Homo sapiens: one gene and its partners. The protein of the gene in region 2 purifies or fractionates together with the protein of the main gene of each other region. This does not show direct contact. Each region holds a gene or a part of one and is shown on either strand. Other genes may lie near its edges. The genes, in order: KIAA0319L, IL31 and COL14A1.

Region 1 (3,652 bases), on a different chromosome or scaffold from region 2:
TGTACTGGTTCTGCCTGTCTGGAGGGCCATGGAGAAGAGGCTGGGAGTCAAGCCAAATCCTGCTTCCTGGATTTTATCAGGATATTATTGGCAGACATCTGCGAAGTGGTTGAGAAGCCTGTACCTGTTTTATACTTGCTTTTGCTTCAGCGTTCTGTGGTTGTCAACAGGTACTATTTTCTTTATAGATTTAAGATTTTTTTTTTTAGAAAAGGGCATTTTATGTGAGTCCCTCAGTTCATTTTAAGGACTATTAGGAGGCAGAAAAAACAATCTGCTAATTGACAGAAATGGTCATCCTTTTGGTGACTGAGGTCTGTTGGGTTTATTTATTTGTTTTGTTTTGGAACCAGAGTTTAAATTGGATTCTTTTTCATAAGGGAGAATTGGCACAACCGTTTTAAGACTTGATAAAAGTCAACTGGGTATTTCCACTTAATGACTATAAAACCTTGAGCAAATTACCTATTATCTTTGAGGAAGGGTTATTATCTACCTCATGGTTTGATTTGAGGGATAGTATAATTAAAGCATGTAGCACAGCACTCAGCATGGGTGCTTAGTCTTGCTATTTGCCCAGGCTGGTCTTGAGCTTCCTTTCCTTTCCTAAAGGAATCTACACTTATGGGAAAAATGCGTTCCTTACTTTTTCCATAGAGAGGGGCTATGTTGATAGATTTTTTAGACTATGCTTTCCTCCTAGAGATTATTTCACCAGGGTAAAGCCTCTTGCCAGGAATCAGTGCCAAGAAGGCTAAATTTCAAAGGAGAATGCCCTTTCTTTCTTTCTTTCTTTCTTTCTTTCTTTCAAGTTCTTTTGTTGATATTGTGCTTTCATAGTATGAGTGTGAGAAAACAGCAATATGAGAAAGATTTCTGTGTATGCTGCCATTCTGGCCAGTGACCAAAAACCTTCTGCTGTAGAGACCACCATCTGGGATAACTAATCAGCCTTTTTCCCTTATAATTACAAAGATTTCTGTTGCTTTCCTAAAGGAATTGGTGGTCATGATTTTGAGACCCTAGTAATTATTGTATTTAGCAATTTCAGTAACATCAGCTTTGGGGTTTTTGTTGTCTTGCAGTGATGGTTGATGATTGCATAATTATAGCAGTGGAAGTTGTACTTGACAGAAAGCTGATCTACATGGTTTTTTTTTTTTTTTACCCCAGATGATGCTTTGCTGGGACAGCTGACTATTTCAGGTCAACATTTTATATAAGATCATTAGAATTAAATAAGTAATTGATTTAGCACCATCAGAATAGGGAAAAATCACTTCTTTAAAAAAAAGAGATGGGGTCTTGTCACCCAGGCTGGAGTGCGATGGTGCCATCATAGCTGCCTGCAGCCTCAAACTCCTGGGCTCAAGCTGTCCTCTTGCTTCAGCCTCCAGGCATGAGCTAGTATGCCTGGCTAATTTTTTTTTTTTTTAAGACAGTGTCACTCCATCATCTAGGCTGGAGTGCAGTGGCACAATCTCGGCTCACTGCAAACTCTGCCTCCCAGGTTCAAGCGATTGTCCTGCCGCAGCCTCCTGAGTAGCTGGAATTACAGGCGCACACCACCACACCCGGCTAATTTTTATATTTTATCCTTTTTATATTTTAGTAGAGGTAGAGTTTTGCCATGTTGGCCACACTGGTCTCAAACTCCTGACCTCAAGTGATCTGCATGCCTCGGCCTCCCAAAGTGCTGAGATTACAGATGTGAGCAACTACACCCGTCTGCCTGGCTAATTTGTACATTTTTTTAGGAGATGGGGTCTTGCTGTTTTGCCCAGGTTGGTCTCGAACTCCTGGCTTCAGTCGATCCTCCAACTTTGGCCTACTGAATAGCTGGGATTGCAGACACCAACCACCATGCCTGGTGTAAATCACATTTTTTGAAGCACACCTACCACATACCAGACTCCTAATTGTAAACATTACATACCTTATCTCATTTAATCTTCATGATAACCCAAAAATAGATAGTTTTCTTCTCATTTTATAGATAAGGAAATTGAGGCCTAGAGAGGCAGAATGACTTGGCCAAGGTCACACAGCAAGAACATGGTGGAGGTAGGATTCTAAATCCAGGTTTGTCCACTGTAGAGCTCATACTCTTTCTCTTCTGGTACTCTGCCTTCCAACCATAGGGGATGTTTTGGAGGACCAAAGGTTTTTTTTTTGAAACGGAGTCTCACTCTGTCACCAGGCTGGAGTGCAGTGGCGCAGTGCGATCTCTGCTCACTGCAACCTCCGTCTCCCAGGTTCAAGTGATTCTCCTGCGTCAGCCTCCCGAATAGGTGGGACTACAGGCGCATGCCACCACACCCAGCTAATTTTTGTATCTTTAGTAGAGACCAGGTTTCTCCATGTTGGCAGGATGGTCTCCATCTCTTGACCTCGTTATCTGCCCATCTTGGCCTCCCAAAGTGCTGGGATTACAGGCGTGAGCCACCATGCCTGGTGGCAATTTTTTTTTTTTTTTTACCCAGTACCATGGTAAGCAGCTTCCTATTTGAGGGATTCAAAGTATAGAGGATGAAGAAGCAATTCCAAGTCTTTCTGTGCTTTCCAATCTAGCACTTGGTTAAACACAGCATTGTAGGCTCATTGTGCAAGTCTTTAGTAACCTTGAGCTTGGTGCTTAAAAACAGCACCCTAATTAAGTATAGAAGTGCAAAGGTGGTGGTGTTAGGTGTAGTTCTGGTGGGGATTAGGTTATGCCAGTTCTATTTTAGAAAAATTTGGAGCTTTTATCATGGAAATTAAAAGATCAAGAGCCATGTATGTTCAAATTGAGGGAACATGCAAGCAACATGTGACAGACATATTTGTTATATACTTTGATTTAATTGGAGCTCCTTCCCATTTTTTTTTTAAAAGGAATATCCTAATAGAAAAAATAAATAGGGCTGGGCGCGGTGGCTCATGCCTGTAATCCCAGCACCTTGGGAGGCCGAGGCGGGTGGATCACCTGAGGTTAGGAGTTCAAGACCACCCTGACCAACATAGTGAAACGCCGTCTCTACTAAAAATACAAAAAATTAGCCGGGCGTGATGGCATGCACATGTAATCCCACCTACTCAGGAGGCTGAGGCAGGAGAATCGCTTGAACCCGGGAGGCGGGGGTTGCAGTGAATCAAGACCGCACCACAGCATTCCAGCCTGGCCAACAGAGCGAGACTCCATCTGAAAGGAAAAAAGAACAAATAAATAAAAGGCATAAACAGAGTGCCATAAATAAGAAGTTAAAATGAATATATTTAAAATGTTCGTTCTCATTACCAATCAAAACGACAGATTAAAATGAGATATCCTTTTAAATCTATCATATTGATGAAAATTAAAGTAAAACTATCCAGTGCTGCCAAGGGGTGATGTGGTTGTCCTCATATAGTGCTGAGGAGTTTGAAAAGAGAACTTCTTGGCATAAATATCAAGAGCCCTAAAAAAATTCATATTTTTCGACTTAATTCTTCATTTAAGAATTTATCTGAAGGATACACTTAGATAGTTGTGAATGAGAGCACTGATCAACAGTCATTTATTCTGTGCTGCAAAATATTGCTGAAACCTGCTTAATTATAGGAGAGTGGTGAAATCTTTGCATCTCCACATGGTGGGATACTATCCAGTCTTAAAATTCATATTTTAAAAGAA
Region 2 (3,752 bases):
GTCACAGATTATGAGAAAAATTCAATATAATTTATTAAATAGATTCCGAGGGCTCCCCCAGGGAGCATTGACAACTCTTAGTACAATAAATATCAATAAATTAACATAGCTGCCACCTCCCACCCTCACGAGGGTATAATAAGTAAGACTTAAGCCTGCAGAAGAAAAGCATTCCATAAATACCAAGACTAATAACAATAACCTAATGTTTTTCAAGGTAATTCACAAATTCACATCTCAGCCCTCCCGGGACTAGCCCATATGAGGGGTCCCTGAGATTATTCATTGGAAAAATGTACTTAAGGAATCACGGCAGAGTTCCCACACTTAGCTGTCGGTCATCTTTTTAAGGCTCCTTAAGTTCCTGCCAATCCGAAAGGAAGAGATGGCCTTAAGTGGTGGCCTGTTGGGCTCCAGAGGTCAATGATTTTAGTGCGAGGTCCATGCACTCTGAAAACTGTTGAGAAATAGTCAGGATGAAGCGTTTACATTCATGGGTGTCTGTTGGCACAGAAATGTTTGTTTCTGGTGCATCTTGAAATATGAGTTTGTCGAGGTGCTCTATGATCTCATCAATAACAGATTTGTTGTCTAGCTGTCTGATTGTCTTGAGATATGCCCGGATGGCTGGGCTGTGGATGTTGTTTGGCGGCTGGGCGTCAGGGCTGAGACACGGCAGCGTGTAATTCTGGGACACGAGCACGCCCTTCTCTTCCTCCACCTGTGGAATGAGGAGAAATGGTCAGTGTTGGGTTTGCAATGACAGCTGCAAGTCTTAACAGTGAATGTTTGCATGCTTCCTCCGTAACCCGCCTCGTTGATATATTTATCTGATCAATGTCACAACCCTATGAGGCTGTGCCATCACCAACCCCATTTCCAGATGAAACTAGAGCTTAGGTGGCTGCAGTCCTGAAGCCTGTGCTCAGAACCACTGATCCATCCAGCTGAGGCCTCCCAGCCTTCCAGAACCCACTCTCACGTGCTCAGGGTGGTGGGAATTGCAGCACATCTGGCCTTCCATGGCAGCTCCCCGCCCTTTGGGACTCTGTGTTAAAGCCACGCACGCTCCACTTATAAAGGAGAGTGTTAGGCTTGTCCGGAAAGGCCTCCGAGATGCAGGCGAGAGTTTTCCCCAACAAACCAAGGAGTCCGGACCACTCCCTCCCTTCCTCTTTCTAAGTACTAACTAGAGTCAGACCAAATTGCCAGCAGCACCTCATCAACCTGAACTGCCCAGTCATCTTGGGTTGGTAACAACCTCTGCCTTTTATAAAAGCCAAGGCTAAGGTCTAAATACCAAGGCAGATGAGAAGAGTAATGCCAATTTTATGAATTGTTTCCAAGTTTGGGCATTTGTTTGTTTGATCAAAGCTATCTTGGCTGGGCACAGTGGCTCACGCCTGTAATCCCAGCACTTTGGGAGGCCAAGGCAGGCGGATCACTTGAGGTCAGGAGTTCAAGACCAGCCTGGCCAACGTGGAGAAACTCTGTCTCTACTAAAAATATGAAAATTAGCTGGGCGTGGTGGCGCATGCCTGTAGTCCCAGCTACTCGGGAGGCTGAGGCAGGAGAATCGCTTGAACCCAGGAAGCAGAGGTTGCAGTGAGCCAAGATTGCACCACTGCACTCCAGCCTGGGTGACAGAGTAAGACTCTGTCTCAAAAAAAAAAAAAAAGCCATCTTTGCCTGTCTAGTTTCCCCCATCCCTTCCTGGCATAGCTACAGCCCTGGTTTCAGGTCCGGAGAGAGGAGCCTCTTTGGAGGGCAATGGAAGGCATTTTTAAGAAATCGTTTAGAAAAGAAATCTCTAGGACACTCACATCTTTCAAAAGCATCTTCGAGAGGGACTGTAATTCCTCGACTATTTTCTGTACATCATCACTTGGTCGTAGTAAACGGACGGGCAACGTGTGGGAGGCCAGCCAGCCTCCCAGGCAGCAGAACAGAAAGAGCACAGACGTCGAGGGGCCTGGAGAGAGAACGATGCCGTGAGCGCATACATCACACACCCCTGCCCACCCTGGCTCCATCCCTGCAGCCCTGCTGAGCCAACCCTGGGGGTAGTGCTTCCAGAATCTTCCTGGTGAGATAAGATGATGCCCAAGACTCCGGAAGCACCAGGACCAGTGATACCTGAGTGAGAGGCCATGGCGAGAGAGAGCAAGGCCAGCTTCAGTGGGGGCTTCTGGAGCCAGATGTGTTCGCCATGGCTGCCTGGAGGTATATAAAGGGCCAGGGTGAGGAGAAAGAGCAGTCAGCGTCCCGCCCATGGCAAAACCATTTACTCAGCTTTTCTCCAGAAAACACTCAAAAGTTCTACTGGCCACGGCTGAGTGAAAGGGCTGAATGGAAATGCTGAGGTTACCCTCCAGGTGGGCAGATGCCTGACTCAGACACACACATACTTCACAAGAAGGCACATGAATGCATCTTTGCCATTCTTCTTGGAAGGAGCCTGTTGATTTGACTAGACAAAATTTTGAAGCCCAGGGTTGACAGACACGACCATACCACCAAGGAGCGGGTGACTTCCAGGAGTTCAAGGCCAGCGGCCACAGGGAATTTCTGGGGAGGAAATGCGAAGCCGGCATGAGATGTGCAGAATGCGGTATCTCTGGAAATTTCTGCAGCATATGCCCACGCCGGTGTGCAGGGACGGCCCCATAACTGCTGTGAATGTGGCGGGTCGAAGGCTTCATCTCAACTCCATGTGGCCTTGGACATCACTGGACTCTCCATCGTGCCTCTGCAATCTCAGGGCCCAGAACCAGAGACTGTGATCCAGAGTTATTGCTTGAAATCCTTGTTCATATCTTTTTTCTTTTTTTTTTTTTTGAGATGGAGTCTTGCTCTGTCACCCAGGCTGGAGTGCGGTGGCGTGATCACTGCAACCTCTGTCTCCTGGGCTCAAGCAATTCTCATGCCTCAGTCTCAGCCTCCCAAGTAGCTGGGACTACAGGCACGTGCCACCATGCCCAGCTAATTTTTGTATTTTTAGTAGAAATGGGGTTTCGCCATGTTGGTCAAGCTGGTCTCTAACTCCTGACCTCAGGTGATCTGCCTGCCTCGGCTTCCCAAAGTGCTGGAATTACAGGCATGAGCCACTGCGCCAGCCTAGAAACTTTATTGCTTTTCTTTCTTTCTTTCTTTCTTTCTTTTTTTTTGAGACAGAGTCTTGCTCTGTCGCCTGGGCTGGAGTGCAGTAGCGCAATCTCGGCTCACTGCAACCTCCACTTCCCAGGTTCAAGCAATTCTCTTGCCTCAGCCTCCTGAGTGGCTGGGATTACAGGCGCCCACCACCACGCACAGCTAATTTTTGTATTTTTAGTAGAGACGGGGTTCACTATGTTGGCCAGGCTGGTCTCAAACGCCTGACCTTGTGATCCACCTGCCTCCGCCTCTCAAAGTGCTGGGATTACAGGTGCGAGCCACCACTCTGGCCTTAGAAACTATTTCTAAGTTCATTAGCTTTCTTTTTCTTTCTTTTTTTTTTTTTTTGAGACAGGGTCTCATTCTGTCACCCAGGCCAGAGTGCAGTGGCATCATCACAACTCACGGCAGCCCCGATCCCCTGGGCTCAAGTGATCCTCCTACCTCAGCCTCCCAAATAGCTGGGACCACAGGCACAAATCACTATGCTAATTTTTTTTTTTCTTTTTTGAGACAGAGTTTCGCTCTTGTTGCCCAGGCTGGAGTGCAATAGCACGATCTCGGCTCACTGCAACCTCCGCCTCCTGGGTTCAAGCGAT
Region 3 (3,652 bases), on a different chromosome or scaffold from region 2:
CTATCAAAAAGTTGGGTTTTTATGTTTTTTTTTTTGTTTTTAAACTCTGACTTCAAATAATAAAAATCAATTCTTTGATAATTTATTTTGGGTGCAGTTGGGTGTTATACTTTCTGTTGTACATCCCAGAAGTGTGTAAGCTCTGAAACAGTGGAAGGCCTGATAAATTCTATTTCATTTCTGATGACCACCATATGTACAAGTTAAAAGATTGAAGTTTCTTTTCCAGGATTAATACCAGGGAGCAATTTAGCCACTAAAGCAAATAGAACTAAAAGGGAAGCTTTCTTAGGCCCCTATTTTGTTAATTTCCTCAAGATACTTGGAAAATAATATTTAAAAAAAAAATGAATATGGCACTCTTGTTTTTTATAGTTAATGAAAACAGCCAAATAGAAAAGCTAAGAGTTTTGGAAATTACTGGAAAAGTTTTAAGATCTGTTATTTCCATGGTTTCCCTAATTTATGATATTGGTGAATGCTGGAAACAGAAATGGAAGGCCACCCTGGACTGATGGGCCCCAGTTTTCCTTCTTTCCTGTGCTTTCCTAAAGCAAAAGATTCCTCAAAGAGTCTTCTACACCCCTGGGAGATACTTGGGTTTTGGCTTTCTTGCCTTCTCATTTCCCTAACAAAACCTCCTTCCTCGGTTTACAGAGGAAGTTCCAGCCCAGCAATACTTAGAAATTGATGAGGTGACGACAGACAGTTTTAGGGTGACCTGGCATCCCCTCTCAGCTGATGAAGGGCTACACAAATTGATGTGGATTCCAGTCTATGGGGGGAAGACTGAGGAGGTGAGTTTTCTGAAACAGACTGAAAATTAATCTGGAGCATTAGTGAATACCTACTGCTGCTGGAGTTGGTCTTCACTTTAAAATATATTAGGAATCCCAGAAGTAATTAGTATTTTACATGGCTTGGAGTTTTAGAAATGTCAAATCATAAGATTTTCCTAATATTATGATGTATTGTTGCCAGAGCTTTAGTTATATATTTATATATTTTCAGATTCTTTGACTTTAATAAATGACATTTAATACAACTTTAAAATGTCACTTTTGCAATATTAATAATTTATTTGCTGAGGGGATTGAAAGGAATAAAGTCTCTGGCTTGACCTTAAAATGGACTTCGACAGCCTTGGAGTTCTTTATGATTGGTTGTTTCTTGCTTATGCTCAGAATAACACTTTTTCTTTACTTTTTTTTCAAATAAGCATAGTTACTAAGCACCAAAATATATTTCAGGTTGTCCTGAAAGAAGAGCAGGACTCACATGTTATTGAAGGCCTGGAGCCCGGTACGGAGTATGAAGTTTCACTATTGGCCGTACTTGATGATGGAAGCGAGAGTGAGGTGGTGACTGCTGTCGGGACCACACGTAAGTCTTGGTCTGGCCACAGTGCGTTTTAGCTGCTCCCACAATCCCTCTTTACCCCATCAATTTCCTTCCCCATCTGCTTTATCTTTGGCTATGTAAGCTTCAATTTCTCTTTGTCCCCCAGAATTCTTCATATATCTTCACTTTCAATGAAACCAGTATGTGAAGCATCTTAGCTTCCTAGATAATGATCAACATGAAGGCAGGGACCATATCTGTGTTGCTCACCATTATATTTTCCAGGACTTAGCACAGTACTTGGCACATGTTAACTGTAGAGTAAACACCCATCAAATGGATGGATGGATAGATGAATGGATGTATGCAAGAATGGATAAAATAATTTACAAATGAATAGATTGCCAAACAAATAAACCTAGGGCCAACATGTCAAAGAGTTTCTGGAATTTTCCAAGTTGATATTGGTTCCAAGAGTCTTGTACAAAATTTACTTGCTGATTCATTCATCTCTTCATTTTTAAAATATGAGGTATTGACCACATATTAAATTGCCTTTGCCTGGGTTCCCTGGAACCAGATTCTAGACAGAAATTGCAGCCAGAAAGTTTATTGAAGAGTGCAGTTGGGAGATGCTTACGTAAAAAACTGAGGACAGCAGGAGGGGGCATGGGAAGAAGTTGAAACTGAACCCTCAGCTAATCTTATTATAATGGAGGTCTAGTGCTGGGATGACCCTTCTGAGTTGTCCCAAATTGAGACAAAGGGGCTGAGACTTCATACCCTTGCATCCCCAGTCGCTGGAGGTGAGCCATTCCCTGACAGAGGCCATGAACTCAGGCGAGACAGTTCCCAGAGCTGTGAACTGTTGGCAGGCAGTGTTCCAGCACCAAGTGGATTGGTGTGTTGACCCTAAAAAGAGGATCTGGGAAGAGCACCACATCTGTACTTCATTCTGCTATATGCCCACGGTGGCTGTAAGAAATAGAAGATGCATTGCTTGTCCAAGCACATTGCATTCCGTGGTGGTCCTGTTTGGCAGCCTTTTCACAACTTGGTCTACAGCACTGTCTAATTTCCCTTAATTACCATGGCTGTGCCCCTATTTCAAAGTAATTGGGTGGTTTCACAATTCTGTAGATGTAGTTCAAATGTTTATATGAAGCCTGGTATCTGTGATGAGAAACTTTAACATTCTTTGGGTTTCAGTTTTCTTATCTGTGGCACAGGTATGTCTGCCTTACTTACAATTCATTTCTTTCGTCTTCTAACCATTGTCATGTTTGTTGTGGGAGGCAAGTGAGATAATATAGGTGAAATGTTCTTTGAAAGCTACAACATGCTATAGAAAAATGGACAGTTGTTTTTGCAGCATTTTAAAGTAATATATTGCTTTTAGTTGACAGTTTTTGGACAGAACCAGCTACAACCATAGTGCCTACCACATCTGTGACTTCAGGTAAGGTCAAATAGTAGCCTGCTTAACCACTTTAAAAATTTTCTTTAAACAGATGTTATATTATCCTGGTTTTATTTATTATTAACTAGGAAAAGAGATGACCCTCCCTTCCTTTTCTGGCACACTGGTTCAAATTTCACGCCTCTCAGAGCCTCTCAACACCTTCCTTGCCACTAAATGCCCATGGATCTCCTAGTCAACTGATCTCACTGATACATCACTCTACCTCTTTCATCTTTGTCTGGATGCTCATGCACCTTACCTGGGATGTTAACGTAGCTGCCTCCCCAGGGGTCTTTGCCCTCCTCTTTTTTTTTTCTTTTTATTTTATTTTATTTTATTTTATTTATTATTATTATACTTTAAGTTTTAGGGTACATGTGCACAATTTGCAGGTTAGTTACATATGTATACATGTGCCATGCTGGTGCACTGCACACACTAACTCGTCATCTAGCATTAGGTATATCTCCCAATGCTATCCCTCCCCCCTCCCCCCACCCCACAACAGTCCCCAGAGTCTGATGTTCCCCTTCCTGTGTCCATGTGTTCTCATCGTTCAGTTCCCACCTATGAGTGAGAATATGTGGTGTTTGGTTTTTTGTCCTTGCGATAGTTTACTGAGAATGATGATTTCCAATTTCATCCATGTCCCTACAAAGGACATGAACTCATCATGTTTTATGGCTGCATAGTATTCCATGGTGTATATATGCCACATTTTCTTAATCCAGTCTATCATTGTTGGACATTTGGGTTGGTTCCAAGTCTTTGCTATCGTGAATAGTGCCACAATAAACATACATGTGCACGTGTCTTTATAGCAGCATGATTTATAGTCCTTTGGGTATA

What was found.
Region 1: the proteins of IL31 (region 2) and KIAA0319L purify together in Homo sapiens (affinity purification with mass spectrometry; one large-scale study listed by BioGRID and IntAct). This does not show direct contact.
Region 3: the proteins of IL31 (region 2) and COL14A1 purify together in Homo sapiens (affinity purification with mass spectrometry; one large-scale study listed by BioGRID and IntAct). This does not show direct contact.

Annotation. Positions count from the first base shown.
Region 1 is NC_000001.11:35,550,868-35,554,519, reverse strand, and holds part of KIAA0319L (dyslexia-associated protein KIAA0319-like protein), read left to right. Parts: 5' UTR 1-28; coding exon 29-170; intron 171-3,652.
Region 2 is NC_000012.12:122,172,021-122,175,772, forward strand, and holds IL31 (interleukin-31 precursor), read right to left. Parts: upstream 2,202-3,752; 5' UTR 2,153-2,201; coding exon 2,137-2,152; intron 1,973-2,136; coding exon 1,824-1,972; intron 722-1,823; coding exon 392-721; 3' UTR 9-391; downstream 1-8. UniProt on the Homo sapiens protein: Activates STAT3 and possibly STAT1 and STAT5 through the IL31 heterodimeric receptor composed of IL31RA and OSMR. May function in skin immunity. Enhances myeloid progenitor cell survival in vitro.
Region 3 is NC_000008.11:120,225,970-120,229,621, forward strand, and holds part of COL14A1 (collagen alpha-1(XIV) chain isoform 1 precursor), read left to right. Parts: intron 1-657; coding exon 658-797; intron 798-1,250; coding exon 1,251-1,383; intron 1,384-2,740; coding exon 2,741-2,800; intron 2,801-3,652. UniProt on the Homo sapiens protein: Plays an adhesive role by integrating collagen bundles. It is probably associated with the surface of interstitial collagen fibrils via COL1.